Linked DNA regions of Homo sapiens: all the other regions are reported to be linked to region 1. The links are microRNA targets in miRTarBase. Many come from high-throughput screens and were not tested one by one. Region 1 holds a microRNA gene; each other region holds the end of a gene's coding sequence.

Region 1 (4,628 bases):
GGTCACTGAGCACAGCCTTGTCCCTCTCACTTCTCTGCGTTTGGTCTTCACATCACGGCACATTTTCAGTTGATGCCTACTTGCAGTATCAGGATGTGTGGCAATCTGGGAAGCAACATCTCTATCTACACACCCATATATGCATTTATAGTATTGAGGAGCGGCCAATCTCCTAAAATGTCTAGGCTAGTAATTGTATCAAATAACCTGTCCTATTAAGGCCATAAATATTCTCATATTAGTCAGTCCCAATTTTGGGGGTAGAAAATGTGCTTACCAGGCATGGAGATAATAAAGAGGAGTAGCACTGTTTGTTTTAACTCAATCAAGTTTCATACAGTTGTGACTCTTGCCTAGCTCTTAGCAAGTCCAATCCAAGGAGCCCTAGGCCAGCTCAGCCTCAGTAATAATATTTAACAGTAGCAGCAGCACGAAGATTCACTGCAGGCTTACTATGTGACAAGCACTTGTTCCAAGAGCTGTTTGTGTATTAACTCATTTAATCCTCAACTCAACTCTGAGGTAGTTCTTATTATTCATTTATTTGTTCATCAAATGTTCATGGAGTCCTGCCTATGTGCCAGACACTGAAATAAGCAGGCAGGATATAGCAATGAACAAAACAGACAAAATCCCAGCCCTCTTGGAGTCTATTTTTCAGTGGAGGGAAGAACATAATAAATGAAAAAGTAAATATCTTTTATTTGGATGATGTTGGATGATGTTAAGTGCTATAGAGAAAAATAAAGCAGAGTGTGGGGGCTGAGGAGTACTGGTAAGGAAAGGAGTTGGATGGCATGGGGGGCAGTCATAAGTTGGCATCTGAGCAGAGTCCAGAAAAGCAGGGGAGCGAGCCTAAGAACATCTGGGGTGAGAGTGAGAAAGGAGTTATTTCTTGAGAACACGCCTATCAAAGTAAGGTGGTTTGCTCCGCTGGACACTTGGTTGATAGAGAAGGTCAAAGATTCCGAAGCACCAGGCTACAGATGAAGAAATGGACTGAGAGGGTCAGCTGACTGCATTCACTCAGCTAGCAAGGGGCAGAGCTGGTGTCCAGACACAGGCAGTCGGCCCCAGAGCCTGCACTGTTGGCCAGAACATCAGATGCCTTGGTTGGGGCCATTCCTCTTTTTTCCTGATCGATTCCACCCTTAGCCGGTCCCAGTTAGTGACTTCTCTTATTTCCTTAAGACAGAGATTTACTGATTTCAGCCACACCACCACCAGTTTCCCTGCCCTCATCTACTTCATACTGAAACTGCAGCCACCTGTCTCCCAACGGTTACAAACCCTCGGTCCCCAAGGCCAGAGCAAGGTTCCCGGACCTTGCTCTCAGCTGTCAATCTGCCTCCTCGATAAGTTCATCAAGAATTAAGATGTTGGTTCTCTAAATCAACTTCTTTCTGTACTTTCCTTCTAATATGATGCTAAAATAGTTTCCTTTTTAATTCTTGTTCTTGCACTTAACCTATTTCTTCTTTCTCAAGATGTTTCCCTTTAGACCTATGCAATCCATCAAAGTAGCTACCAGCTACAAGTGGCTAGTGAGAACCTGAAATATGGTTAGTTCAAATGGAGATGTGTTCTGAGTATCAAATACACACCAGAATCTGAAGACCTGGTATTAAAAAGTGGAACATAAAATCTCTTGTTAATATTTTTTTGTAGTAACTACTAGGTTAGTGCAAAAGTAATTGCCGGTTTTTGCCATTAAAAAAAAATAGCAAAAACCACAATAACTTTTGCACCAACCTAATACATGTCGAAATGAAAATATTATGGATATATTAGGTTAACTAAAATATATTATTAAAATTAATTTCACATGTTCCATATTATACTTCTATTTGAGAGCACTTCTTTAGCCTGTTGTTTCAAGACACTCACATCCCACCTTTCTCAAAGGCCACATTTGTCTTTGACTGTTCTCACCTTAGATAGGATACAGCTGAGATCCACAGTATGCTTTAGGGAATAAGGTTCTTACTAGATCGGTTAAGGCTGTGAGTGTTTTTAAATCTATTCTCCAAAGTCTGATTCAAGGTATTTCAATACAGTACTGATCATTTCACTAAAATTCCTTGAGAATCCTTGTTATTTTCTAGATACTCAGTTCATCGTTGGGAAACTCTATTGCAAGTAGTTTACAATGGCACAGCCTCATTAGTTTCTTATTAATCTGATTTTTTATTTTTTTCTGAATGTGTATGTTAAACTTCAATTTTCTTCTAATTTTTAACTGGCATAGGAAGAAAATGTTCAAGAAACTACAGACTGGTCAGCCCAGTGGAAATTCAGGCACTAATCTCAACAGACATTTTGGGGAACATTGTAAAGTAAGCAAAGTTCACTAGAACCTATAAAGTAACCAAAAAGCATTTTCCTTGGAGGCTGATGGGCAGGCACTGAAAGTTATCTCCAAAGAGGAACTGCTAAAATGTTTTCCCCTCCTTTTCTAGGGACAGTCTCTGTATCTTATAGTCACACTTTATATTCAAACCTGAACTTATCTGAGAAAAGAGAAACGGCTGCATCCTGGTTTCACTTACAACCCTGAGATGGAAGTTGAGATTTGTCATTGCAGAATTTAAGGGTCTGTGTCCTTAAGTAAAACCTTCTGGTCACCCCTCAAGTAAAGCTTCAAAAAAGCTTAGGCACTTGTGCAGAAACAGCATGAGAAGAAACCAAAAGGCAGAAAACTTACACATATAAGGGCTGATTTATGCAAAGTTTCTACTTTTAAACAGAGAAACCAATACCTACCCTCAAAGCCTGTATTTACTAAAGAAATGTTAGAGTGACAAGGAGGTCAATAAAATAAATTATTCAAATCTGGTTCTTAAAAAGAGGTTCTAAGACTATTTTAAAACTTCTGAAAGATGCCCATCAAAATTAAAACAAAAAAACATAGCAACGAATACAATGAGTGAAACTTGATTAGATCCGGGTTTTTTAACAAAAGACACTCTTGTGACAAGTGGGGAAATCTGAATACGGGTAAAAGTTAGGTGATGTTACAGGATTAGTGTTAATATTTATAGATGTTATGATGTTATTGAGATTATGCAAAAGTGTCTAGGAGTGAAATGTGGGTACCTAGAGAATGTAAATATAATAATGTTAATAATAAATATGTCAATAAATTGCCATTGTAAATTCTATGTCCCAAAGAAGCACCCCTCACCATTACAAATTATGATATTAAATACAATTTTGCATGACTGGTAATTGTGCTGACCTATATTTCCCATGTTTTAGCAGAATTTCATTGGACAATGTATACATGTTGGATATAAGAAATCAGTAGTACTCATCTTCAAAAAGTTGCTTAGTGGATCTCAGGCTAGGGATACAACAGAGCATATAAAGGAATAGGTTCTGATTCAGAGAGAATCAAAGTTCAAGTTCACTCTGCCACTTATTTGCTGTGTGAACTTGGACACATTACTGAACCTACCTAAGCTTTGTTCTCCTATTAAATGTTCCCTATGTAATAAAATCAGTGTGACAATTAAATAAAAACATCTCAAATCTGAAGCATAGCTCCTGGCACAGAGCAGGTACTTACCTCCTAGTGGCTATTATTACTTACACTCTGTTATAACACTGGGCCTAGTTTTCCTATAGGAACACACAACACTATTTTAACTTGGATTATCTTTGCTAAATAAAAAAACACAGACTGTCTAAGTCTCAACTCCAGCAAAGCACATGAACAAGTCTCACATAATAATGTGAGATAATTTCAAATGGAGAAATGCTGGACAAATACATTGTCATCTAATGTTCAGATTCAACAATCTTTACTATTAAAAAAAAACAGATCAATATAAGGAAAATTTTAAAAAATAATACATGACTTCTGCATACAAGGAACTTAAAATCTAGTTATGCAGATAGTTGGCAATAAAGGATCTGTAAAATGTCAACAACAGCAGAATAAGACAGACTCTGTTAATAATAAAATAGTTCCTACCTTTTTATTTTTTATTTTTTTGCTCTGTTACCCAGGCTGGAATGCAGTTGTGTCATCATGGCTCACTGCAGCCTCAAATTCCCAGACTCAAGCAATTGCCAGGCTCATCTCAGCCTCCTGAGTAGCTGGGACTACAGGCGTGCACCACCACACCTGGCTAACTTTTTGTAGAGATGGGGTGTATTAGTCCATTCTCGCACTGCTAATAATGACATACATGAGACTGGGTAATTTATCAAGGAAAGAGGCTCAATGGACTCACAGTTCCACATGGCCAGGGAAACCTCACAATCATGGCAGAAGGCAAAGGAGAAGCAAAGTCATGTCTTAATGGTGGCAGGCAAGAGAGAGCGTGTGCAGGGGAACTCCCCTTTATGAAACCATCAGATCTTGTGAGACTTATTCACTATCACAAGAACAGTATAGAGGAAACTGCCCTCATGATTCAATTATCTCCACCTGGCCCTGCCCTTGACACACGGGGATTATTACAATTCAAGGTGAGATTTGGGTGGGGACACAGCCAAACCATATCATTCCACCCCGGCCCCTCCCAAATCTCATGTCCTCACATTTCAAAACACAATAATGCCCTTCCAACAGTCCCTCAAAATCTTAACTTATTCCAGCATTAATCCAAAAGTCTAAATCC
Region 2 (4,000 bases), not on the chromosome of region 1:
AGAAACTAGAAATACCAAGGAAGGGGCTTACTTAAAGCAGTATAAATAAATAGAGGCCTCAGTGTTCCTCTTCCATGGCCATGTGTAGTTTCCTTACCCATTCACTGTATCTGTTAATTTCTGAACTGGCTGAATCAGAGTTACTGAGGCTTTGGGACCCTGTTTATTTGTACACTTACCCATATCCTCACTCTCAGCAAGGCAAGAGAGGTCTCATGTGAATTCAGATTGTGACAGTGAATTCCCTAACTCCAAATTTGGTTGAGTTTGAAAATTTTGCACTAGGGGTTACTTCTGCAACTAGCTAATGCTAAGCACTGTTATTACAGGAAGGCAGCTCAAAGAATGTCATCTAAAGTTCAGCAGCAGGAATACAACACTAATGACCCTCCACGTTGGTTTGGCTATGATAGGGAAGGAAACCCTGTTACAGAGCTTGACAACATAACATCATCTAAAGGAGCCTTAGAATTAACAGTGAAAAAGTCAACATACAGCAGTGAAGACCAAGCAGCGTGACCTTCAGCCTCAAGCAGGAAGAACAAAAAATCAAGAACTTGGCAAGTTTTCTCCATTTGTTGCAAGTATGTTTACTAGCTGAATCTCAATAACAATGTAAACAAGCAACAAACCATCTTCTGATTCTTATTCCAACTACAAATATTTCCAAACACATCAGTAGTTCTTCTGTCTAAATAATCATGATTTAAAAAAGAAGCCAGGCCAGGAGCGGTGGCTCACACCTGTAATCCTAGCACTTTGGTAGGCCAAGGCGGGTGGACCATAAGTCAGGAGTTCAAGACCAGCCTGGCCAACATGGTGAAACCCCATCTTTACTAAAAATACAAAAATTAGCCGGGTGTGGTGGTGGGCGCCTGTAATCCCAGCTACTCAGGAGGCTGAGGCAGGGGACTTGCTTGAACCTGAGAGGCGGAGGTTGCAGTGAGCCTAGATCACGTCACTGCATTCCAGCCTCGGCGACAGAGCAAGACTCCGTCTCAAAAAAAAAAAAAAAAAAAAGAAGCCAAATCAAGTACTGACTACACAAAATTTCTGCCTAAATTTAATCAAACCAATAGTTTTGATGAGATTATAAAATCTACAGTTATATGAAACAACCCTGAGAGATGAGACTTTTTTGACAAGAAATTAAGAAATTTTTCTTTAGAAAGGAAAAAGAAAGCAGAGATGGCCATATGTCAAACTAAGAGTTTGAGCCAGGGGAATAACTTTAAGGATCTGTAACGCTTTTTAAGGCTTTATAAAGAATACAGACATATATTAATATTTTCAAAGGAAATGTGGCTTTTCTGTGGTTTCCAGACATTTAACAACAAAAGAGAACTAAATGCCGCCAATTAACTCTGTACTTATCTCAACATTTGACTTAGTCAGGGGCAAATTAAATAGAAACAAGAACTATCTGAATAGAAAGAATGTCCCTGCAATGTCTCAGAAAGACATCTCTTTAATCAAATTTGCACAACGGAGGAATTCTTAAACTATGCTATGCCAAAAAAGATGCTCCCTCAATTTTATGCTAGGAAGTATGGGTTATTAATTGCATATCTACATATTAGTTTTTAATAAGCTTTAATCCGTAGGTTTTAGTATATGTGCTGCCGAAGTGAGCACATCTGTGGGTTTTTACCATTATTTGATATTATGTAACACTGATGTTGACACAGTCCAAGAGAAAACACAACTCTGTTCTGACTGCCGCAAACAAGCCTTGTCAGCAATATCAGATCAGCCTTTTAACCTTTCTATTTCCTCAATTACTTATCTCTCACGTGGAGTTAATTCTCTTTTTGTATCCCACAAGTTTCAAATAAGGATTAAAAACTTAAGATAAAGCATCGTTATTTTGAAAAGTTTTAAAAAGATTGTACAAAGTATTATTATAGGCTACCTTGTATTAGCTAAATGCTTTTAGTAATTCTCCCCCACTGAGGTTGACTTGCAAAGTTTTTGAAATAAGGTAATATTACTTAGCTGTGGAAAGGTTCCTAGGAGTGGGCACACAGGCAACAGAATCATTTGAGTGGGAAGTTTTAGACCATAGCCAAGAGACATAAGATGACATAAGAGTATGATTTTAACCTAAATTTGGAAATTTCTGGCAGCTGCATTAAAGATGTTTTCAAAAATCTGATCCCTAAGTGCTTCATGCACACAACTGGTGGAACTTATAAAAGAGGCAATTGCTTTCTAAAGGAATGACACCTGCACTGGTTAGACCCCGGTAAGAAACACACCCTGTTATGTTCTCCAGAAACCTAGCAGGTTGCTTTACATTCAGAGCTTGCTCCAAAGCTCTTTGAGTAACATCCTTTCTTAAACAAGAACAGAAGACACATTCATTCATTCTGGGGAGACAAATTTTACAGCTACATAAATGAAGAAAAGGAGTAGAAAAAGTGAGCTATGAAAGGAGACCAAGAATAGGGATACAGGTAGAGAAATCTTTTAAGTTTTCGATGCAAACTACTCAAAATATCAAAGATATTAGTTAGGTCTTTAGCCCTTACGTATTTCATATTCATAGGTCTGTGTCCAAGAGAGTAAATTATGGCAGCTTTTTCTTTTTGTCTGGGACTTAACAATGTGATCCAAATATGTACAATTCCATTAGTAGCTTTAAATATAGTTGACTGCTGTTATGCTTATGACTTTTCTGGCTGTGGTTAGCTAATTTATTTTTAGTCATGAAAATGTTTATGTAATTGCATGAGGGTGAAAAAAGATTATCAAAACTGCCTCACTGCTACACAGTTTCCTCTACTTAATAGTATAACACACCACAACCATACCAAATATACCAATGTGTGAGTATCTTTCAGACTTGTATACATTCTGATTTCATGAAGGGTGAACTAAAAGGAGACTCTGAGATATCCTACAAAGCTGACTTTTGTTTCATAAATAAGAAGTTAAAAACAGAACTCTAAAGAAATGGAAAATTAATGAAAAGGAGGCTGGGCACAGTGGTTCATGCCTATAATCACAGCACTTTGGGAGGCCAAGGCAGAAGGACAACTGGAGGCCAGGAGTTCGAGACCTGATGAACATAGTAAAACCCATCTCTATAAAAAATTTAAAAATTAGAGCATGGTGGCACCTGCCTGTAATCCCAGCAACTCAGGAGGCTGAGGCAGGAGGATGCCTGAGGCCAGGAGTTTAAGGCTTCAATGAGCTATGATCATGCCACTGCACTCCAGCCTGGGCAACAGAGTGAGACCTCGTCTGAAAAAAAGAAAAAGATCATCATAAATAATAATATTTGGAAAGGTTTATTAAAAATTAGTGTTTAAGAATGGACTTCTCCTGGCCCGGTGCAGTGGCTCACACCTGTAATCCCAGCACTTTGGGAGGCTGAGGCAGGCAGATCACATGAGGCCAGGAGTTCAAGACCAGCCTGGCCAACATGGTGAAACCCATCTCTAGTAAAAATACAAAACTTAGCTGGGCATGGTGGCGTGCACCTGTAATGCTAGCTACTGTGGTGGCTGAGGCATGGGAATCGCTTGAACCTCGGAGGCAGAGGTTGCGGTGAGCCAAGATTGTGCCACTGCACTCCAGCCTGAGTGGCAGAGCAAGACCCTGTCTCAAAAAACAAACAAAAAAAGAACTGACTTATCTTAATCATAAAAAATATAATCCAAGCGATTTAGGCCATTCTTGTTTTGCTATAAAGGAATACCTGAAGCTGGGTGATTTCTAAAGAAAAGAGGTTTAATTGACTCACGAGGTTTAATTGGTTCTGCAGGCTGTGAAAGCATCGCACGGGCCTCTCTGCTTGGCTTCTGGGGAGGCCTTAGGGAGCTTTTACTCATGGCAGAAGGCAAAGTGGGAGCAGGCACATCACATGGCAAGAGCAGGAGCAAGAGAGAGACGGGGAAGATACCCACACTTTTAAACAGTCAGATCTTGCAAGAACTCACTATCATGAGGACAGAACCAAGAAGGTGGTGGTAACAATTAATGAGAAATCTGCCCA
Region 3 (4,628 bases), not on the chromosome of region 1:
CAGCGTGATTTCAGTGAAATAATTTAGACCCCCCAAGCAGACTGTGCAACGGATAGCCCCTGGAGAGTGCCCCGTGTTTACATTCTCATCTGGCATTTTTGTTTTGTGGAATCGGCCTGTGTTAAGCCAGGTGACCTATGAACAGTGCTTGTCTCCTCACTAGGTCATTTGGATCATCTTTTACACTGCCATCCATTATGACTGATGGTGTACAGCTCCCAAGTGCTCCCTATCCAGTCCAAAGGACCCTCTTGATTACAGCACAGGAACTTGATCGTTGGGGAACCCCAGCCCCTTGGAACTTGGAAGACCCGTGTTTCCTGGACCGCGAATCAGTGTGTTGGGCATCAGTGTTTTCTGCAAGGGTTGTGACCTGAAACTTTTTAAAAACCACCCACCTTTGGGGAAGCATTTCTGAATTTATCCATCACCAACCATTTCTTCTTGGATACCATCAAGTAACAGCTATTATTTGCCAAGTGGAGCTGTCATTTAATTTGATGCACCTCTGGATTCAGATGAAACATTAAATTGTCTTCCTCGATTCTCCATCGGGTGTAGAGTTTTTAAACTATCAATGGCATTTCAAGTCTTCTGAAACAGCATGGCTGTATGTGCGTGGTCCATAGCACAGTACATGCAGCATCTAATAAGAGTTTCCATTGTAGAATGTTTTCACATACTTGAATAAATCAAATCTTTAATTGAGAACCTGTTGATGATACCTGATAAAGCCTTTCCCACCCCACCTGTAGCTTGGGAACCAGTAGGAGCACTGGAGGGGGTGCCTCCCACCCCATCCCTCTTTCTTCCTCTCCCTGATCCCTTAGCGGATCCAGCAGACCTCTTTCTGTTTATGGAGGCAGCAGGGAAATCAAGGGCTGGATTTGGTGTAGGCTGTGGTCTCCGTCTTGGCATTGTGGAGAGAGGGCTTAGCACCTTCTGATGCCCCTGCCCAGCACTGAGGTGCCTGGCCTCACTGCAGTGTGCTAGACTTAAGAGGTGTTATTTTTTATTCGGCCACAAGATGGCAAGGCCAGTGTGCTAGGGAATGGTAAGCCACAAAATGAAATAGAGATCTGAGAGCTAGGCTGGGTGCCGTGGCTCACACCTGTAATCCCAGCACTTTGGGAGGCCAAGGTGGGTGGATCACCTGAGGTCAGGAGTTCGACACCAGCCTGGCCAATGTGGTGAAACCCCATGTCTACTAAAAATACAAAAAAATTAGCCAGGCATGGTGGTGTACGCCTGTAATCCCAGCTATTCTGGAGGCTGAGGCAGGAGAATTGTTTGAATCCAGGAGATGGAGGTTGCAGTGAGCTGAGATCGTGCCATTGCACTCCAGCATGGGCAACAGGGCAAGACTCCGTCTCAAAAAAAAGAAAAAGAGCTGGGGCTGTTGTCCTCAATGGGGGACATTTGAGGACCTAGACTGTCCGAAGTCTTTCTCTTTGCTCTGGAGGTCACATAGAGCCTGGACCATCCAAGATCTGCTGCTACGGTAAGACATCATCTCAGCTTTCCTTTCCCTTCTAGGCCACAGTCCTACCTTCTGAGGTATGGTGGTGGTCTCAACGAGACTTGTAGATTTTCTGAAAATGACTTTCTCGTTGACTCTAGGGGTTGTTTCTACCTTGTGGGTGGGGCCTGGTTAATGGTGGGGATGTAGAATGGGGCTCAACAGGCAGGGCATCCAGATGGTACTGGAAACCCCAAACTCAAGAACTAACTAGGTCAGACCCCCCAGGAGGCTTATTCTCTTTTTGGAACCCTGGCCCTGGTCCCACCTTCTCTGCACTCGCACTAGAGGTCGCAGGTGGGATCATGGCACTGGAAGGAAGTAGGTGACTTCTAAGGGCTAAGAGAGGAAAGAGCAAGGGTACAGGTGGGACCCTAGATGCACCTCTGTGTCCCACCCTCCCTCCCTGAGTGCACAGCCTTGCCTCTGGGGTGCCCAGGAGGCTGAATTGGGGTTCTAGGTGTGCAGCCTTGGTTTCCCTTTTGGCCTCTCCTTTGGGCCTAGGCATCATCCAAAGAGACAGCCTCGTCATTCAGGCTGATGTAGAAGCTGAGGGACTCCCGGAGACCCTCACTGAGAAGAGACTCCTCCCCTGTGGCAGCTTCAGAAAACAGGAGGGAGCTGTGGACAAAGGAAGATAATTGGGTCAAGAAGCCTCTTCCTCCTCCCTGTACTCACTACACACAAAATTGCACTGTTCTCAAAACCCTTCACTCCTGCTGAGGACCTCATGGGGCTCCCCTGTTCCCTATCAGATCAGCTTCCCCAGCCCCACCTGTCGAGCCTGGGCCGTGCTCCAGGAGTTGAGTCAGTGCACTCTGGCTCCAGCTGCCAGGTGTCCCTGAGTGTGACAGGTACATTCCGGGTTGTGGCTTCCCAGGGGTGGGTCCTTCTAACTCTTGGTCCTGCTTTCATGTTTCCAGGAGTCCCCAACTTTACCTGTCCAGCTCTTTCCAGTTGAGTGGTGTCCTCTGCACAGTCACAGGTAGGGGTATATCCTTGCCAGGGAGCGGGCCAGCCCTCTGCAGGACACAGGGCTCCTTGAGTAGGCAGCAGATGTCATCCGCCAGCTCTGAGGAAGAGACCTCCATCCCTGACATGACTGACTCCACCCTACTTCTCCCCAACAGCCCTCACCCTGACAGCCCTCTGCAGTTGGCAGGAGGGGGCATGGTTACCAAAGAGTGATAGGACATGAGCCCCAAGCTATTGGTTTCATGGAGACAGATGTAGTCAAAGGTCTTTCTGGGCTAACTTTTGGGAGACAGTCACTGTATGATTTAGGGTGAGTTCATGGACCTCTTGAGCTCAAGTTTCTGGTTAGGAAATTGCTTTGGGAAGAAGAAAGCTAAGGAATGCTCAGTCTACTTCTACTCACTGTCTACTTCCACACAGAGTGACCTGCAGAAAACCCCTAATGAGTTTTCACAAGAGTGCTCTTCCCTCTCTGCCCCCTGACGCTGTGCCCAGTGACTGCATCTTCCAGTGTCTGTTGAAGGACAGGCACCAGGAAGTACTAAGGAGAGTCAGGATTGAATCCCACACAGCAGCAGCTCTGTGCCCGGTTCCTGTGGAGAGAACTCTGCCTGCTGCCAGGGGCTCTGAGTCAGAACCAGAGTGGTAGGCAAGGTACTGACCTGAGCCTACACAGGAGGTCTGTGGCTTTTCTGCCAGGGCACGAGGTGAAGACAGGGCTCCCAGCCTGCATTTCTTGGCATAGGGACTGGCGTGAAAATAGGGGAGGCCGCTCTTCTGTCTGTCTGAATACTCCACAGTAGGTAAAATATCCAAGGGCACCACTGCCTGCTCCTCCCCACAGACTATCCCAGCCTAGTCCTGGAGGCAGGGAAAGGCCATACCAGAGTAATGGTCCACCAGGGCCTGGAGTGAGGGGAAGGTGAGGCGCGGTGAGATGTACAGCCAGCCATTGTCAAGGCAGTGGATCCTGTAGTGTCTGATCCGGTCCCAGGATGCAGGGCGGCTGAGGCGGACTGACAGAGAGTAAGAGCCTGAGGAGAAAGGGGTCCAGGGGTGGCACTGAGGCCCTGCTGGGACTCGGCCCCACCTAGGCTGGGAAACGAAGATAGGCAACGTGACCATGGGGCCCCGGCAGAAGGGAAGTGTCTGGGGCAGAAGCAGGACAAAGACTTGCTCTCTTGGTCATCAATAATATGTTCATAATAGATGGGGGTCTTGTGAGGGTGAAATCAAATCACACACAGAGCCCTCAGTACAGGGTCTGGCACTGTGTGAGTGAACATTCAGCGTTGGCTGTTCTTACAAAGACTCAGGTGGCAGATATGTTAGGATGCAAAAACACTGTCAAGAAGATGCTGGCAAGGAAGTGGAGAAGTAGGACCTCCCACCCTGCTGGTGGAAGAGAAATTAGTACGAGCCACCTTGGAAACAGTTTGGCATTAACTAGATGAGCTGAACATGCACGTACCTTACAACCCAGCAGTTCTTCCCAGGCACAATACCTCAGAAGCACACAAGCAATATGCACAGCGGCATTGTTTGTAAAAGTCAAAAACGGCAAACAGCCCGTTTGTGCTCAAGAGTAGAATAAATTGTGGATTATAGAGTGTAGTGCTATACAGCAGTAAAAATTAATAACTGCTACATATAAGCATAAGGAAATCTTGGAAATTAAGCAGAAAAACATTACAGAGCATACATTCAGCCTGATTCTATTTAAAGTTCAAAGATAGCCAACATGACATTATATGTTGCACAGGCACACACGGCAAAGCTCTGAAGAAAAGCAACTGAATGATTAACACAGTGAAGCATGAGAGGGGGCTACAAAGGGCTTGTTAGGTAATTTCAGCTGGCAAGTGGGCGCGTGGATGTCAGTTTTATTAGTGCTGCTCAACCTACATGTATACATTACATACACTGATGAATGACAGTTTCACCAGCTTTGCATGTTTCATTTTTTCATTTTTTTTTTTTATTTTAATTTTCTTTTTTTTTTTTTTTGGAGACAGAGTCTCCCTCTGTTGCCCAGGCTGGAGTGCAGTGGTGCAATCTCGGCTCACTGCAACCTCCGCCTCCTGGGTTGAAGTGATTCCCCCGCCTCAGCCTCCCGAGTAGCTGGGACTACAGG
Region 4 (4,628 bases), not on the chromosome of region 1:
CAAGTTGCTTAAGTCCTTGCAGGAGGTATAGCATCAGAAGGTGATTCATACACTGGGATCCCTGGCCCCCAGGCTTGTGCTCAGAAAGATCCTCTGTTCTGTTGACCGCTTGATAGAAAACTGGAATTTGATTTATTAAATGTTTGACATTTTTAATGAAAAGAAATTGATTCAGAAACTTTGTGAATTTTGCTCACTGTTTTGAGAATCTAAAGACCCTTTTTCTTCTTATTTTAGAAGCTGCTAACCTGTGCCAAACCTCCACGGCTGCTACGACACCTGTGACTCTCACTACTCCATTCAGTATAACATCCTCTGTGTCGTCTGGGACTATGTCAAACCCAGTCACAGTGGCAGCTGCAATGAGCATGAGAAGTCCAGTAAATGTTTCAAGTGCAGTTAACATAACCAGCCCAATGAACATAGGGCATCCTGTAACTATAACCAGTCCATTATCCATGACCTCTCCTTTAACACTCACTACCCCAGTCAACCTCCCCACCCCCGTCACTGCCCCAGTGAATATAGCACACCCTGTCACCATCACATCTCCAATGAATCTACCCACACCTATGACATTAGCCGCCCCTCTCAATATAGCAATGAGACCTGTAGAGAGCATGCCTTTCTTGCCCCAAGCTTTGCCTACATCACCGCCTTGGTAAACAGTATTATAAAATCAAAATATGGGTAAAAGTAAATATTTACCAGCAACTTAACTTTTAGTTGATTAAAGCAAAAAGTAAACCATGAAATTGGGAGATTTTATTACATTAGTTAATAAGAGTGTGGTAGCATTTTTCTCCAATTTGGCTGGGATTATTCAAAGTAGGGTGTGTATGTAACTTATCACTGGACCACTTTAGTTTAATCAGAAATTCCTTTTAGCTGACAACATTGCTTAAACAGGATAGTAGTTGGCAAGATGAAATGCCAGAATTAAAACCAATCATAAGTAGAACCCACTTCAAAATAAAAAAACAGCATTACTATTTCTAATCCCAAGGAATCACTTTATTGTAAACACTAGCAGAACTCTTCTCCCTATACAAGGTGGATGGCTGATTTTAACCTGAAATTTTAAATCCACAGATTGAGAGCTAGTGTAGAATTGTCTGTGTTTATTGTTTTTATGAGTAAATACATGCATTGTCATAATAAAATGCATTTCAGAGAATATGCATTTTACCTTTGGGAATATGTTAATTTCAGGCAGCATTCCCTATGGGAAAGGTGATACCAGCTCTGATATGCAAAGCATATGATAATTTATCATTCTAACTTCAACGTATAATAGGGATTGTGACCTGATATTTGGAGATGTAAATATTGCTCAGCATATTAATCCCGATGGAATATAGCATTGTAGTTGACTTTTTAAAAAAAAAAAAAATTTAAAAAAAATCTACAAATTGTGTTTTGCTAAGAAAAGCCTCAACTGACAGAGGAGAAGTCAAGTGTGTGGACAGGCAAGCTCCTAATAAACAGAGTCCAGTGGGATTCCTATTTAGGAGCCAAGGAGTACTTTGGAACAGTACAAATATATTGCTTTAAATTGGAAGACGCTGGAGGCACTGGGATGTGATATGCCCCTCTCTCTCCCAATCAGAGCCTGTTGATATTACAACAGGGACAGATGTGTTAGTTGCTCACTAGAGTTTATGTCTTATATTAAATTGTATACAGTTTTTATTCTAACCACTAACTAGGTAGTGTATGCCCCTTCAGAACATGCAGAGTGTATCTTTTTTTAAATTTCTCCTTCCGTTTCTTAAGTATTGCGCAGATTTGTTCAACTTTGTAAATATGGACATCACTTTTTTTTTCTTTGAGAAAACACTTGTATCAGCTTTGTGGTGTTTTCAGGGAGACAGCTGTCTGCATTCCCTGTAGAAACCCAGCAATGATTATGCACGTTGAGACATGTGCTTTTTATTTCTTAGCAAGATATTTTATCTCTGTACATAAAGTAGAAACCAAAAGCTAGGGAAACAGATACTCTTTACACCATCATGCCACGCATTGTTTTTAAAGCATTGCGTTAAAAAAAAAATTAACTAAACCAAGATGCTGTGATTTTTTAAGTTGCAATATGTTTTTGGTTTTTTTCATTTTTTAATCATTGCAGTTAAGAGAAATGGAAATTAGTTGTGTTAATCTTGCAGAATGTTTGCAGGACTGACTATCAAACTGGATGATTTCCATTTATACCCTACTGTGTCAGTTCAAGCATCAAAATACCTTGCATCTGAGACAGACTTCCTACATCAGGGACAGGTATCTGTGTGTCATTATACAAAACAGTTCTAGGGGGTTGAACTACATAGTAAAAAAATAAAATAAATAGTACTTAGTGTAAAATAATTTTATAAATGATCTTTTGTACTTTAGGACATTAAATTGTACAACTTTTGTATATATAAAAGCTTAGGAACTTTCTGTTTAGCAGGAAGGCAACACATTCCTACACTTTTAATGTATATGTTTGTTATAATGTCCATGTAAACATGCCCTATGTTTGTGCCTTTTAATTAGTTTGTCTCAATAAACAAAATGTAGAGAAAAATATGTAGCTATGACTTTGTTACAACTGTTCTTATCCACAGTACAAAAATGGTTTGTTTTTAATATGTAGAGCATTATGTGTGGACTACTGGAAGGACTCGTGTAGGGAAAGCCCAAGAATGACCTTGCTGAGGCCTGGATTGGGAGGCACAGTGGCCACATTTGGAGGAAGTTCACATTTCCTGGCATGCAGACCCAAAACTGGGTTCTGGCTCTGCCTGCTGGGATCTGTTATCTCTGGTGGGCTGGCAGTCATAATTCACAATTCAGACAGCCCAGGCTTCCTCCACAGTGGTCCAAGGAGCAGTCCTCAGTGGGGGCAGGTGTGGGCCCTACCCCTAAGCTAGAATGTGGTTGTCAGAACCCTGAAAGTATTAGTTCTAAAAAAAAAAAGATATATACTAGAAGTAATTGTTTTATCAATTCATTGTATAATAAACAGGAGTGAGACTTCATTGTATGACTTCAGTTAAAATACTATTTTGTATGCATTCTTTATTCACTTAAGAAGCTTGTCTGCAATAATAAAGCCACGTCATGTCTTCTTTTGGGAGGGAGAGAGTCGATGGCAGGAGGGGGTTTTGGGTGGGCCACTGAAAAGGGGTACCGAATAGGTTGTGTGATGAAATTCTGTGTCTTGGAACTGGAATTGAGTTTCGATGTTGATGAACTGATTCAACCAGGTGTTGAAGGCACGACAGCCACTGCTCTACGAAAAGGCAGAGTACGTTTTTCCCTTCTGGTTGTAACCTGGTTGAGAGCTTCCCCTTTATCAGATTGGCAGCTAAACAGTTGTATTAGATAATCCTTAAATCTGACATCCAGCCTGTTACGCTCTAGGGCTCGCTGCTTGGCCTGCGTTTGCTTTTTATTGTGTATCCGTTCCCCTCCTACGGTGTGCTCCTGAATGAAGGTTTCTATGTAAGCAGATGATGATTTTACCTGTCAATACCAGCACTGTATTACTAACATGCAAAATACTGCAGATTTATTTTGAAAATTAAAGTTAACTGGTCACAAATGTTATGATGGATTGTTTAATACCTCAGAAGCTTCATCAGTTTGCTCTGATAATAGAGGAATTTTTCAAGTACTTTCTTTTCAGGTGCGCACATCTCAGTATTGGGTTGGAGAGAGAGGGAGGGACCAGTATCAGGCTGGTTGGAGGGTGGAAGGGCACCAGACTGACTGCCCTTGGTAGGTGCACCCTCCCAAGCAGCTCAGGTAAGGCCCAGGAAGCTAGGATGGAGGCAGTGGCCACAGGTTTAGGTCCCTGTCCTACCCAAAAGAGAAGATGGGTTTAAAACATTTCTTCTCATGCTCTAGGACCCAATTTCCTTAGTTGAAAGGGGCTTTAAGCTGGGTCCCTTGCCCATTTGTGTTCAACTAGATTTATGAGATGCCCACTGAGGACCAACAATGTGCCACGCACTATTAGGCACTAAGGGGCATGAAAAGTTGATTTAAGACATGGTTGCTGCCTCCAAGGAGGCTGTTAAGGGAGATGGGACGAGTGATGGTATCACCAAACAGCAAATCAGGATGAATGTGACACTTCATTCAATGAAAAAGTTTTGGATACCTACATCTGTTTTATATAGAATTGAGGCTTTCCAAACTTCCTGTGATAATTGTCTTAGGCCTTTAGTGACTCAGTGAACACAGCTGGAGGAAAGTGTTCTTCGTGCTGTGTTTGTCCTAGGAACAAGGGAAGTGTTATTTCACTGAGTTGCTAGTTAATCATTCCAGTCCCGGCTGTTCAGGTGTCTCCACTCTTCTCAAGGGGCCCTGTAGTTTGGTCCTCTGAATCGACCTAGGTTTAGGATGTAGAGGAGATAGTGGAGGTTTTCACTTCAGTATCCTCAAGGATCATTGGACCTAAAAGTCCAATCTGTTCATGGGACAGTAATCAATTTTTCCTCCCTGCCCTAATAGGTCTGGCCATCAGTCTTGCACTTTTTCCAATTCCTCCTTAAAGAGTCCTGTATCCTGAAAGAATGTCTTTTGTCCCTGGTTTGGGTCTGTAAATCTCCCCCACAGCTGGCCTGACATTGGCAGATTAC
Region 5 (4,628 bases), not on the chromosome of region 1:
TAGCACCCCTTCCCATCCTGGCCTGGGTCCCTTCCGCTGGGCTGTGTGCAGGTGGCAAGAGGACCTTTCCCCTTCACCTGCCATTTTTCTTCTTTTCCAGCTTTGAATCTCAGCTTTGCTTTGCAGCTGCATGACTGGAAGCTGCTTTTTATTGACATTGGTGTTGGTGATGTGATTCCAGATTTACACTCAGTTTACTCCCTGCTCTTGCTGGCCCTCAGCACTGTGCTTACCCAACTGTGCCAACAGCCCCGGGGAGGTGACGTCAGGGCGCGCCCCCATCCCCAACCCCAAAAATCCCCCTTGATTTGAAAGATGTCTTTTGTTGCTGAACAGGTAACAAAACCACCTGGCTCAAATGCACTTCATTCTCCAGCCTCCCCCCACCCCACCCACTTAAGCTTGCAGCAGGGCAGAAAGGCTTCAGGCTCTCAGGAGTCACGGGAGGCAGCCAGGGCTGGGGAGGGCAAGGGGCCAGCTGTTCAGCACTAAGCCGGAAACGTCTGAGTGAGAGATAAAGAACTCAGCAGCCAGAGCATTCAACAGTTTTATTTGCTGTTGGGGAATGAAGGGAACAGGAAGGAATGACATGGAGGGGAAGGAAGCTCCTTACTCCCGTCACTAAGGTAGGGCACGTGGTACAGAGTGGCTTGTGTGAAGCGGCCGCCCCAAGCTGAGCCTGCAGCTGATAACCACAGACACCCTGGCAGGGAAATCTGTGATCGGAACAACAAAATGCCAAGGAAAACAAAACCCATTTGCATTTGGTATGAATTTCCTGTTTAAATAGGTTTTATTAGCGGGCAAGAAAGGAAAAGTGGTGACTTCAAGGTGTCATTGGGCTGGCAAGGGCTCGGGCCCCTGGAGGGGTACAGTGGGGGCTGGGCCACACTCCCTGCTGCCCGTTTCCTCCTGGGGGCAGCTGCAGCAACCTCTTGGCTTGTCTGCTTCCTGTCTCTTACCTAACAGTCAAGGCTCACTAGAGGAGTCCCGGGCCCCCTAGGCTGGCTCCGGGGGAAAAGGAATCAGGCAGAACCGGCTAGTATTATCCCAAGGAGTGTGGCTGGGCGGAGCTTCCCCACAGATCTCTGAGTGTGGGGAGGACTGGAGAGGCCTCAGGGCAGTCCTGAGAGGGGGCAGGGCTTACAAGGGGCTGAAGCTGCCCTCTGTGGAGGAGGTCAAAGGGCAAAACCTCAGAGCCAGTCTACTGCCTGGCCTTCTCGCTTCACAGGCTCAGACTTCCTCCTCGCCGAAGCCCAAGGCTGCGACGTGTCTGGAATGTTCCGTGTCACAGAGGTGCCTCTGGCAGTGACCTGCATCTCTCACCCTCCTCCACTTCCTTTGCCTCCGAAAAGCTCATGTCATGGACGTGCAAAAGGAGACCTCCTGATAAAATGCCTTCTCAGCCCCGACTCCTCACAAATAAATTAAAACCCACAAAACTGTCCATTCCACAAATCCACAGGCCAGGAGACAGTTTAAAATGAAAATGCATCTTTAAAAAGTAATGGACCACTAACTTCATGGGCTCACCTCATAAATGCTAAAAACCAAACAAATCACCCCAAATCCAAGTAAATTAGCCTGATTTTATCACACAGGAAAGGACTCAGGCTTCTCTCCCCACGTCTGGGCTGGCGGCCTGTCATCCATCGGACGTCCCTCCCCCCACCCCACTCCCCAGAGCTTGGCAGGAAATTCGGGGGCAGATGGGCAGTGGGGAGCTCTCTAGACCATTCTCAGATACCACAGGACCTGCTTCTCAGAAAGGCTCTCCCCCTGTAGGCACTGACCAGGAAGGTGGATGGCTTATCAGAGATGCAAGGTGACAGACCCCATGTGAGGAAGGCCAAGGGCATTTTGTAGTTCAGGCGATGGAGGCACCTTGAATATTTTCTCAATTTTGCTTTATAAACAGCAAGTGCCCTAAGTACCAGTTGATCTAGCTTTCGATCAGCCAAAGAGACCACATTAATCATATCCTCTCCCTCCTCCCTCCCCCCACCACCCAAATCACTGTCTTACAACTGATTCTGGCCAAGGAAATTTGTTAGCAAAATATTTAGGACTAAACTCAGTGCAATCTAAGATTCTGAAGAAGCCAAGTATTCTGTTTTGGCCCTCACCAGCTGCTGCTTGAATTTCTCCATCCTCCAAGACTGTCAAGAATCTGACAGCTCTGCTAACGAAAGCTGCAGACCCTCGGTTCGGTTCCATCGCCCTTTCTCTGGGCTGGTGTGTGAAGCTCCGAATCTGTGACCTCACTAGAATCAGTGTGCGCAAGGGGATCAGCAATGCAGGGCAAAGGTGACTGGTGAGACACACGTCTACACAAACGCATACAGGTATACAAAAAGCAACAAGAGTTTAATTCTCTTTTTACATGGCCACAGGCTCTCTTCAGTCAGGGGAACTTCAGCTGGTGCCTCTCTCTTGCAGCTATGAGGCGACAGTGTGGTGACATGCCTCATACAGACTGTCCCAGTAAGCCAGGACAAGTCACCATTAAAATCTTGCATGAACAGCCCTGGGCACGTGGGAATGTTAAGAAAGAGCCACCGCCTCCTTAGTCAGCTTAACCACAGCTCCAAACGCAGTTTGTCCCAGCTGGCAAACGCCTCAAACACCAATCATGCGTCGTGCTCCTATTCTGGGTTTTTATAAAACACTTTTATATAGCGATATAGATAGCACAGTAAATGTGCTTCTGATGCACTCTAACATAGAGGACAGGAATACACACTGTGGGGCGCCGCCCCAGCCATCTCCACAGTGGAGAAAGTGCGAGGGTTAAATACACGTGGCGGGGTGGCAGACGGCAGGAAGTTACAGAGCGCCACGCTCCACGTCCTTCCACGCGACTGACTCATCCAACACTCAGAACTCGCCTTCTTTATCCCCTTGGTGGGTAGGAGCAGTAACAAAACAATGTCAGTCATTTTCTAAGGGTGGAGGATGTCAAACTGTCTGGTACCGAGAGAGCAATTCTTATCCAGAAATCATCTAGAAATAATTGTTGAAGGTCAGCCTGACCCATGGCCCCAGGCTAAGGGCTGCTCTGTAAAGGGCGGGACTGGCTCTGGGGGTCTAGGGCTGATGCAGTATCTCTCAGACACTTGCACATTCACACACCCACACGCCCCAGGGGAAAGTGCACTTCCAATGCTGATACAAAAATAGATTGGCACACTCTTTGACACAATGAGGGTATCTTTTAAAAGTTTTCCCCCAACTTCTGCAGACTCTCTTCCCCCGTATGCTCAAGCCCTTCACACTCCAAGTTGGAACAGATCTGGAGAAGGCCCTGGACCACGCTTGCAAAGTTTGTGAATGCCGGGGAGAAAGACTGGGCTGGGGCAGCTAGGGATTCTCGCTAGTGGACAGAGGGCAGGGCCTCTCTGTTCTCAGCACACACCTCCTCTTCCCGTGCTTGAGGAGTCCATAGCTCATGGCTCCTCTTGGCTACACACCCAAGACTCCTTGGAAAGTTTCTAGTACTGCTTCTCCCCAAACTATGTCGAGAGGAAGAAAAGTCTGGTATTCTGAGTTCTACTTTTTTTCATTTCCAGTAGTAAGTAAGTGCTGCTCCACCAAGCTGAGAAGAAATGGCCCTTGGCTGTCCTCGGGGCCAGTGCTAGGAACTCTGGACCAGCCGTCTGTAGTGGGGCATGACTTCGTGCTCGGGCAAGTGGAGGGCGAATTCCAAGGCCACTAACACCGGGAATTCAAAGGCAATCAGTTCTCGCCTGTTCAGCCGGAACTTCTCTTCCAGTTTCTGCAACAAAAAGAAAATCAAAAGCATGTTCATTTTGAAATTAAAATCCTAGTCTTTCTGCAATTGCAGCTTCTCTATCCACCAGCCAGTGAGTGCTCAGGAGAAATCCACTTTGGGCAAAGCTCTGTGGAGGAAGAAAGGGAGGCACAGGCTGTGCTTCCTGCCTTCGGTCCTGGTTGTGAAGGAGCTGCTCCTTTCCCGAGGGGCTGCCCGGAACCACACATACATCTTATGACATCATTTAATCCTCTCAGGAATATGACATGGTTCATGCTCCGTATCTCTATTTTACAGATGAGAAAACGGGCTCCAAGAAGTCAGAGAGCTTAGCCAGGGTCACATGTGTAGCCAATTGCAGCACTAAGAGTCCACCCTAACTGGGACTCAAACTCTACCTGTGGCAACTAAGTGATTCAGGTTTAAAGGGAAGACTGAAAATAAAGCAAACCGGTGGTGGCTCACGCCTGTCATCCCAGCACCTTGGGAGGCCGAGGTGGGTGGATCACTTGAGGTCGGGAGTTTGAGACCAGCCTGGGCAACATGGTGAAACCCTGTCGTCTCTACTAAAAATAACAAAAATGAGCCGGGCGTGGCGGTGGGCGCCTGTAATCCCAGCTCCTCGGGAGGTTGAAGCAGGAGACTCACTTGAACCCGGGAGGTGGAGGTTGCAGTGAGTCAAGATTGTGCCACCGAACTCCAGCCTGGGCAACAAAGCAAGATGCTGTCTCAAAAAATAAATAAAAATAATAAAGCAAACCACGCACGACAATAAAAACCACGTGGTAAGTTCAGAAGGGAGTGCACTGATTCTATGTAGTTCAGTCCTTTCATCTTACAAGGATCTAAGTCCTCG
Region 6 (4,000 bases), not on the chromosome of region 1:
CAGACAGACACCGTGAATGCTAAAGTTCTCCTGGGGAGGTGCATCAACGTGATCCTGGCCTTCATGACTGTCATCTTAGTGTGTGTGTCCACCATCGCGAAGTTCGTCTCACCCATGATGAAGAGTCGCTGCCACATTCTTGGCACCTTCTTTGCCGTGACTCTTCTTGCTATATTTTGTAAAAACTGGGACCATATCCTGTGTGCCATAGAAAGGATGATAATACCAAGATGAAGCCACTGGTTCCTGCCTTCAAGTTCTTTCAAGTTTTTATTTTAAAGAAAACTCTGTGCATACTACCAAATTTTACAGTGAATGATTGTGCGGACTCGTGTGTAAGAAAAACTAGGACTGTGTGGTGTAAATAACTACAATTCTCTTAACTCCGTAGCAGTTGCCAACTCAGTCCTTGTACTTCGTTAACACGAATCTGTTTCAGAGCTCTCCTACCTTGCTCACTGCCTTAATCAGACCGATTTCCTGCCCACCTGACCAGCCCAGCGTGGTAAACCTCTGTATATTGAGACCTTGGCATAATTGGTGATCCTGAAGAAAGAGGTCTCTCTCCTAAGTCTCTGTCAGAATTGAGCTTCACAATTGCTAATGGTTGTTTTCTGTGAGTCCTATAAAAAGCAAGGATATGCATGATTCAGGGAATGAAGAATCACAGGCTTGGGCAGTGTTAAACACTGTGGCCTATGGTCCCCGTGTGATCCACCCTGCTTCTCTCCAGGGGACCATAGGTCCCGTCATGTACTCAGTGTCCACAGCAGTCAGTCGTGTATGACCCTGTAACGTGGAAATCTTATCACACACCTGTTATCCAACAAGTCTACCTGAGGGGTTTTGTTACACTTTAAATGGGAAGGCATAGGGATTTATGAATGGGGCTTTCACCTTCTCATACCCAGGCAACCAACACCTGATTTTGTCTCAACTGGCTAGCAAATGCCCAGCCTTCAGAGTGTGCAGGAATGTTTTCAAATCCCTCATCAGACTGTGACTTTAACATTAATTTGGAATCCTGTGAGCACTACTCTGAAGGTTTGTGTTTTGGCAAATCTTTTTTCTTTTTTGAGACAGGGCTCTGCTAAATATTGCTCAGGCTGGTTGCAAACTCCTTGCTTCAAGGGATCCTCCCACCTCAGCCTCCCAAGCAGCCGGGACTGCAGGCACAAGCCACCATGCCTGGCTGTTTTTTGGCAAATCTTGATTGTGATAAGCCCCCCTGGAGGATATGATTCACTTTATGTGATTCATCTTATTCACAGGTCTGTGAGGGACTGCAAAGCTTACTCAGGAAATGAAAACAAATGATGGTCATGTTGCAGTTTTTTCCTTGAAGGACAACCGAACCATAGCCTCTAAAGTTCAAGTGCACTGAGGTGTCGGAACGCTGAAAGCATGAGGAAACGAGGACGTAGGGTGTGACTGAATGGTGGCTAGATTAGTGGGAGCAGTTCACCTGGATGAAGATTGAGAGCATCGTCTTTGAGAAGTGAAAGACTAGCAAGAATAAAATAAATTAAGTCCAGTGTTTGAGCCAAGGTTGCCACCTGTCTCTTAACATCTCACTGAACATAAGTCCTGAGGTATTAGGACGACCATACTGCCTCTGAGCTGAAAACATTCAAAAGTTCACATCCCTGTTTGGGGGATACCATTCACCGCCTTCAGCCCAGATGATACTTTCCTTTAAATCTGTGTCTCTGTGTGTATAACAAAGAGGAAGATGGAAACAATGTTCATGGAAACTGCTGTTGAGCCCCTTGTCCCACCACTCCCGCCATCTGCTGCAGGCAGGAAGGCATGTGAGTGTACGTTTTCTTCCAGGAGACATCAGGTCCCCCTGGATTCAAATTAAGTGCAATATTTTGCAAACAGCTCTTCTTAGGGAAATCTCCTGAAGGAAAAAAATGTGACAGAATGTTCCATAGTCTGAGAGAATGGAATCGTTGAGCATTTAGTACAAGTCCAGTGTGTGTGAGCGGGACTTAGGCAGCTCAAGCTTGCTTTTTTTTTTAAGCGTACAATTGAGTGGTTTTAGTAAATTCACAAACTTGTTCAACCATCACCACTATCTAATTCCAGACTCACGCTTTTTTAAACAATAAATGTCATTTCATGAAATCTTTGGTGATAAAGTATTTTGGATTCAGAGAAGAGCTCCCTTACCAGTCCCACCCTGATCTCATGGCTGTCTCTCCTTTCATTGTCAGACTCCCCCTGGTCTACCGCGTTGATGTGTATACACTGATCTTTCAAGTCTGGGAGACAGATAAGGAGGCCAGGTGCAAGGCAGGGAGGCAGAGAGAATGTTGTGCTTCCTTTAGCTTTTGTATTTCGATGGCCAGCATTACCCTTTACCTGTGGGCATCAGACTCAGCGTGGGCTGAGTGCTGAGTGTAACTTACACTCCTAAATCAAGCTGGGGCCTGGGTGGGCCCCTCTTGGTATCTGTGAATCTTTCCAAGCACCACTTCGGACACACCAGGGATTGAGTGCTGCTGTTAGTTTAGAGAAGGAGAGATGTCTAACCCTTGAGGTGAAGGGCTCTGGGAGGGTCCAAGAAGACGTAGGCTTCATTTTCACACCAGCCCACACCATTCCAGTGCTCAGCCTAGCAAATGTGCTTTAATGCACACTTCTCAGACCTGTGATCCGTGTATCTTCTCCCCAGTGACAGAAGTAGAGAAGAGAATGGAAAGCAGCACACTCCGTCCCCTCTAGTCTGGAGCTGTTAACAGAATCTGCTAGAAACTAGCTTTATTCTAACATACCGTAGGATCTAAATCCTCCTACCTGGATCATGAATTCCTTTGAAATAATTCATATTTTCATTGACTCTCACTAAATGTCAAATAACCTTGTTTTCACTTGGATAGGCTCAACCTACCTGGCATATTTATTTTGCAGTCTTGTTGAAAGTTCATGAAACTTTGTACTTTTTAATAAGATGATACACTCGAAGGAAACTTTTAATCTCTGCAGTTTATTCTCTCTTAAGGAATAAACACTCCCACTGTTTGTTCTCTTCAATGTGTAAGGAGATTAAATGACATTTTAGAAATATTACAATTAAAAATAGTGATGTAGCTGTAACATATGCTGGAATTGGATATTTAATTTATGTTTGTGTCAACTATAATCCTTTCCCCACCCCTTTCATTTATGGTAAACATCTTGGGCAAACCCAAAGATGGAAAGTGCTTGTTGGGTGGGTAAGCACCACCTGGTCTCTCAGCAAACACTCCTGAGTGGTTGAAGATGCTGGACATTGGATTCTAGCACTGGGTTTATCTGGTGACATAGTCTCCTGTGGGTCTTGAGTTGGTTATTTCAAGCTCAAACTCTGAATATGATTAAACCAGAACACCCCACCCCCAACTGCCAAAAAAAAAAAAAAAAAATGGAAATCCATAATGAAACAGCAAAAAAGTACTCCGTTGCTGGGTTTGGACAATGAACATGGGATTAGTCCCAAGTTTGTAGCTTGGAACGGTAGCATTTTTGCCTGCGTGATCCTTGTCAGCTATTCACAGAAGGAAATCTTCCGAAACTCCGTCTTTCATTTCAGCCGGTGAGGCTGTTATCCTTCTCTGTCAATTAGCATTCATGTGGTTTTCGCTCTTTCCAGCTCTGTCACTCTTGTTTTCATTTAAATATTGCCCCACTCTGTGTTTATTGCCTTGCCATTTCTCTAGCATATCAGGTTTAATTATGGGCTCAGTAATAATGAGGAACTAGCTTCCCTCAGGCAACTAATTACTTTTGTCTTTTTTGGTCGGATTGTACCAAATTATTTTGCATTGAATGGGAATGTTTTTGCAGTGAATCCAGATATAGTTGTATTGGTTTGGAAAAACATTTAAATATATTTATTCATATGAACATGTGTGATTAAACAACCTATTTTACATATTTCTGTAATTCTGAGGAGTGGGCTGGGGGTAGGAAGAAATGGCACCACTTAAAATTCAGGGCTTATATGAAGAGGTGT
Region 7 (4,628 bases), not on the chromosome of region 1:
TACTTTGTGGTAAAATGAGGTGGAATGCTTATTCTTTAGAGGGGGGAGGAGAGGTCAGGAGACTGCAACAGACTGTAAGAGAATGTTATTAATAAAAATCGTGGAGATAGGGAGTTTAGATTTGGAAGAGACTTTAGCCATCACCTACATCAATTTTCTCTTTTTTACAGAGAACTTATCTGGCCCCCATATCCTTAAGGGTTTTGCTAGTGGAGAAGCTAAATTTGAAGCAGACGCATGGTCTTCTGTCTCTTGATAGAATTCTCAGAACGTATGATCGTATTTTAGAAGAGAACAGTTGAGGAAGTGATTTAAGGAAGAGGAAGTAGGTAGTGGCGTCATGTCACTGTGTCATTGCAGTGTGACAACTGGAACATTATTTAAGTAATTTAACCTAATAGTATCTTCAAAATGGAATTTCTGTTTTGATATTAATAACTTTTTTCATTTTCACCTAGGCTGAGTTGCCTAGTCACGTATTTTCCTTATCGCATCTGTGGGTCAATCTAACCATGCAAATATTTTTGTTTTGTATCATTTTATAGGATTTAATGTTTATCTGTTAACCCTACTTTCATATATTAGCCCTCCACATATAAACATGCACACATAAGGCAGAACATTAATATTTTGTGAGACTTTGACTAATAGCCATTATTCTGGAAGTTTTTCTTTTATAACTTCTTTCCATTTTTTGATGACTTAAAAAAATTTTTTTTACCATTAAAGAGTAGTCGTGTATAAGATAAAATTCATGAACATCTTGTTTATATGAAACATTCTCCAAGCCAAGTAGGAAATGTAAGATTATATTCCAAAATTCTCATATAACCTTTCCTCCTTTTTTTCCTCAGGTGTTTGGATTTATAGCAAGTTTTATGTTCCTACTTGACTTTATCACTATGCTGTATGAAAAACGACAGGAGTCCCAGCTGAGAAAACCTGAAAATACCACTAGGGCTGAAGCCCTCACTGAGCCACTTAATGCCTAAAGACTCTGGGGAGCAGATGTTACCTAAGGTAGTGACCCTGCATTGTGGTGCCTGAGCCCTGGCAGAAGCTCTTGTAAAATTTGTTAATTGTTTAAACCACTTCTTTTGGAGAGCAAGGGGAAGGTCAAGAAGGCAGTTTTATCAATATTGTGTCAGTCACCACAAAGTAGGCCAGATAAGTTAAAAAAAATTTTTTTTTAAATAATAATTGAAACTTATCTCAAATGGAGATTTTGGTGGGAGGAGGAGAAAACAATTGTTTTTAAATCACACAGCTCAACGGTTGATAAATGATTCTGTCATTCTGTTACAGGTCATTCTTTTACTAGGCTTAGCTTCCAAATTATGCTTTATAGCTGTATAAACATCGTGATTATATTCATCTACTTAGAAATTGTTTTATTTTTAAATTAATTTGCTTAGCTGTTTGTTTTGATGCTTAGATTATGTTCTGTTAATGGGAATTTAACATATTTAAGAAACCAATATTTAAAATGTTGGTCTAGGTTTTTTTCCTTAACATATATTACCAGGCTTTACTGTATTTCACTCAGCCTTAAATGTTATAATATTTTTGGATAACGGTTATTAATTCTTTGAGACCTTCGTATAGCCTATAAAATGTATGGGAGATGTTGGTATTTTATGTGTATAAAAGCAACAATATCAGCAACTTCGTGTTTATACTGCACCTTGGTTGTTGATGTCAAGTAAAAAAAAGATTGTTTTGTAACACATAAAAAAATGGAAGAAACTGATACCACACCTAAGGACCAAAGATAAGAAAGACTTTTTGCCCAAGACAGTGAAAGTAATTATAAAAACAAGCTTTGACCACTTACCAAGTATCTGAAGAGATGAGTTCATACTATGATTTAGAAAGTGGTTCAATTCCCCTGTTGGCATATGATTATTTTTACTAAAATTAATACAGCTCTGTGGGTCTTCCTTAGTGTTTTCTTTGAAGCCAATCTGTTTTTTTTAGGACACCAGCCTTTGGTTTTTCATCTGTTCGAGATGCCTCTTCTCTGTCTCCTTATCAGATAGAAATGGAGTCATGTGCTGCTGCTTCATCTAGCAGAGGTTGGCCTCTGGCTCTGACACTTTTTGTCAGTTGTCTTTAGGTGGTCCTGAATCTTGGGCCCTTTTGATTGTGAATACTGTGTAGCAGGATCTTGAGAGTCCTTGTTCTTACATAGGCATTGCTCTAGTTTGTCTTTGGCAAAAAAAAAAAAAAAAAAAAGTAAATATCCAGGGAACCCTGCCCAGACTAATACTGTTGGTGGCATAAGAGAATCAAGCCATTCTCAAGAGATAACTTCATAACCAGAATTGTCTGTTGGCTAGCAGCTGTCACAGATAGGCAGGGCACTTGGGATATGACCTTTCTGTCCAGGTGATTCACAGACTAGACCTTTCTTATCCTCCTCCTAGAGTTTTGACTTGGGACTCTAGTGTTAAGATGATGAGCCCGTGCATCAGGTCCTTCTGCACTTTGGTGGAAGTCTCCCAGGGTAGGTTTCCTATTTGAAACAGTGGAATCATGTTTCCAGTGATAAAGTTTAATGACCTCATCCTTTTTTTTTTTTCTCATCTGCCATTTGTGTGTCTTAGATGGGTTTTAATTGCATGAATGTGGCTAATGTGGTTCTCAGAAATTGGTCAGTATGGCCCAACATAGCTTCTGCTCTGTCTTACTGACTCAATACCTTTAGGATTTGTATCAGAGTTTGGATACTAGTGTTAGTGGTGGTGTCACCACTACTTAATTGGGAGATAATGAAACCAATCATGGATGCTGTTTTTATTGGGCATGTCATCTAAGAGAGGAGAAATAGCTGGGTTTTGGGTCTAATTATGAATAAGGACTGATTCAGAAAACGAGTTTATGGTAGGTAGACTAAAGTTTCACATCAGACTGTACCATTGTGATTTAGACCTATCTAAAATTCAGAGCATATCATCTGGGCTACCTCAGGGTCACCACCCATGTATTGGGCTTAGTCAGGATTGACAGATACATTCTCAGCTGGCCTGTCATATAAAACATACTGTCATTGAGCTTAAGCTCCGCTTGTTCTGAGGTTTCACCTCCATGTGTTTCATTGGTGCAAAAGTGGATCTCTTAGTTGGTCACTTAATTCTTTCTTTTTCAGAAAGATAGTATGTTCACTGGTATATTTGGTCACTCTTAGAACCTTCCTTCACATTGTTTTTTATGGGACCCATGAATGGTTAGCCTTTCTTTTCTATTGTAGAAGGAAATAAATAGGAGTAAAAAGACCATTGTAGTAAATAAGTTCAAGGGGAACTTGGGACCAGAAACCACTGTTATGTACAAAAAAATGGCAAATTCAATAAACTCAAATTTAAAATAATTTTTAAATTAACAGTTATGATAAATTTTATATTTTATACAAATAGATTGCTTAGAATGGTTCTCAAGAATTATAAGAGAAATGAACTCACAGTACAAAAATTTTATAATTACTATACTTGTGTTTTGTTTGGGGGCTGGGAAATGTATTTTTACATTGTAGCCAATCATTTTATATTTGTCAATTTAAATCTTATGGGTCTTTTTTTTTTATCTCTCTTGATGTCAGATTTTATAGTCTTTTTAAATAAATCCATTTAATTAAAACGTTCTTACCTTTGTAAGTGTTTATTACAGAAGTGTGATGTTTAAATGAAAAGCTGTCTCTGTAGTTGTGGGAGTTGGCTGCACAATCTTGTTGAGTGCCTATATAGAATACTAGATTTTAGATATATCTAGGATAGAAAAGAAACAAATCCATTTCCCATCCATAAACTGTCCCTCTTGTTGGAAAGTTAGAATACACATTTAAACAACATTTTTAGGGAACCACAGAGGAAGACTTACAAATGGCTTTAAATACTTCCAAAGAAGCAATTTAGACTCCTTGTCACATTTCTAGATGTGGCTAACAATGCTAAAAACAAAATAGGCACATTATCTTAGGAACTGTTCAATGATTGGGAAAGTGTGAAGCAAAATTATTAGGGTGGTGCTGGTAAAACTACAGCTATTTGTGTAGTTTGCGAAATTCCTGCCTCCACCCTGTGTGAGAATAACAGGGTCTTTATAGTCATCAAGAACTCACTGGAATTTGTACATTCTTCAGAGTTTAGAGTTGAGTTTTGTTTTGATAAAGAGCATTGTATCAATATGCAATAAGCTGCAAGAAGCAGAAAATCTAATTAAATGTGTCTTAAACAGTAAGAAAAACTTATTTCATAAGACATCTGGGTACATTGGTGAATTCAGTGGCCAAATTTTTCTACAAGTACAGTAATGTGTGTCATAGAAATTGATATAATAAAGGGGGAGGCTGGGCGCAGTGGCTCACTCCTGTAATCCCAGCACTTTGGGAGGCCAAGGCAGGCGGATCAGCTAAGGTCAGGAGTTCGAAACCAGCCAGGCCAATGTGGTGAAACCCCATCTCTAGTAAAAATACAAAATTTAGCTGGGTGTGGTGGCACATGACTGTAACCCCAGCTACTTTGGAGGCTGAGGCAGGAGAATCGCTCAAACCCCAGAGGCGGAGGTTGCAGTGAGCCGAGGTCATGCCATTGCACTCCAGCCTGGGAAACAAGCGCAAAACTCCATCTCAA

Evidence for each region. Region 1 holds the annotated microRNA hsa-miR-548ac (CAAAAACCGGCAAUUACUUUUG, at 1,686-1,707, opposite strand). A microRNA usually pairs through its seed, bases 2 to 8, with sites in the 3' UTR of a target mRNA and lowers its output. Matches are read on the target gene's strand: a 7mer-m8 pairs with bases 2 to 8, a 7mer-A1 pairs with bases 2 to 7 and ends in A, and an 8mer does both.
Region 2: the mRNA of FBXL13 is a reported target of hsa-miR-548ac. Seed matches in the 3' UTR shown: 7mer-A1 at 1,580-1,586 and 8mer at 1,643-1,650.
Region 3: the mRNA of RAB5IF is a reported target of hsa-miR-548ac. Seed matches in the 3' UTR shown: 7mer-A1 at 563-569.
Region 4: miRTarBase lists VEZF1 as a target of hsa-miR-548ac. Seed matches in the 3' UTR shown: 7mer-A1 at 1,127-1,133, 7mer-A1 at 1,686-1,692, 7mer-A1 at 2,025-2,031, 7mer-m8 at 2,101-2,107 and 7mer-A1 at 2,621-2,627.
Region 5: miRTarBase lists CABLES1 as a target of hsa-miR-548ac. Seed matches in the 3' UTR shown: 8mer at 1,545-1,552.
Region 6: the mRNA of TMCC3 is a reported target of hsa-miR-548ac. Seed matches in the 3' UTR shown: 7mer-A1 at 267-273.
Region 7: miRTarBase lists CMTM6 as a target of hsa-miR-548ac. Seed matches in the 3' UTR shown: 7mer-A1 at 1,251-1,257, 7mer-m8 at 1,498-1,504, 7mer-m8 at 1,991-1,997 and 7mer-A1 at 2,793-2,799.

What each region holds. Positions count from the first base shown.
Region 1 is chr1:116,558,353-116,562,980 of GRCh38, forward strand. It overlaps MIR548AC (microRNA 548ac), which reads right to left and starts at 1,759; the gene lies at 1,672-1,759. All of the region lies in intron 1 of CD58 (CD58 molecule), which reads right to left. LOC105378925 (a long non-coding RNA gene) reads left to right here. Exons shown (of 3, transcript XR_947739.2): 3 at 1-2,835. RefSeq lists enhancers at 226-275, 1,327-1,566, 4,166-4,315.
Region 2 is chr7:102,809,861-102,813,860 of GRCh38, reverse strand. It overlaps FBXL13 (F-box and leucine rich repeat protein 13), which reads left to right. Exons shown (of 21, transcript NM_001394494.2): 21 at 330-2,672. The coding sequence ends at 519. It also overlaps a transcript of FAM185A not described here. Among named protein-coding and RNA genes, the nearest start is that of FAM185A, 63 kb to the right of the region's middle.
Region 3 is chr20:36,611,847-36,616,474 of GRCh38, forward strand. It overlaps RAB5IF (RAB5 interacting factor), which reads left to right. Exons shown (of 4, transcript NM_018840.5): 4 at 164-711. The coding sequence ends at 205. TGIF2-RAB5IF (TGIF2-RAB5IF readthrough) reads left to right here. Exons shown (of 5, transcript NM_001199535.2): 5 at 164-711. The coding sequence ends at 205. It overlaps SLA2 (Src like adaptor 2), which reads right to left. Exons shown (of 8, transcript NM_032214.4): 6 at 3,379-3,528; 7 at 2,459-2,591; 8 at 472-2,140. The coding sequence ends at 2,020. Among named protein-coding and RNA genes, the nearest start is that of RAB5IF, 8.4 kb to the left of the region's middle.
Region 4 is chr17:57,970,510-57,975,137 of GRCh38, reverse strand. It overlaps VEZF1 (vascular endothelial zinc finger 1), which reads left to right. Exons shown (of 6, transcript NM_007146.3): 6 at 238-3,586. The coding sequence ends at 665. Among named protein-coding and RNA genes, the nearest start is that of VEZF1, 15 kb to the left of the region's middle.
Region 5 is chr18:23,256,374-23,261,001 of GRCh38, reverse strand. CABLES1 (Cdk5 and Abl enzyme substrate 1) reads right to left here. Exons shown (of 10, transcript NM_001100619.3): 10 at 532-3,775. The coding sequence ends at 3,635. It also overlaps a transcript of SLC35D4 not described here. Among named protein-coding and RNA genes, the nearest start is that of CABLES1, 120 kb to the right of the region's middle. RefSeq lists enhancers at 1,360-1,409, 1,040-1,703.
Region 6 is chr12:94,567,669-94,571,668 of GRCh38, reverse strand. TMCC3 (transmembrane and coiled-coil domain family 3) reads left to right here. Exons shown (of 4, transcript NM_020698.4): 4 at 1-4,000. The coding sequence ends at 234. It overlaps MIR7844 (microRNA 7844), which reads left to right and starts at 317; the gene lies at 317-438.
Region 7 is chr3:32,480,324-32,484,951 of GRCh38, reverse strand. CMTM6 (CKLF like MARVEL transmembrane domain containing 6) reads left to right here. Exons shown (of 4, transcript NM_017801.3): 4 at 855-3,640. The coding sequence ends at 992. Among named protein-coding and RNA genes, the nearest start is that of CMTM6, 20 kb to the left of the region's middle.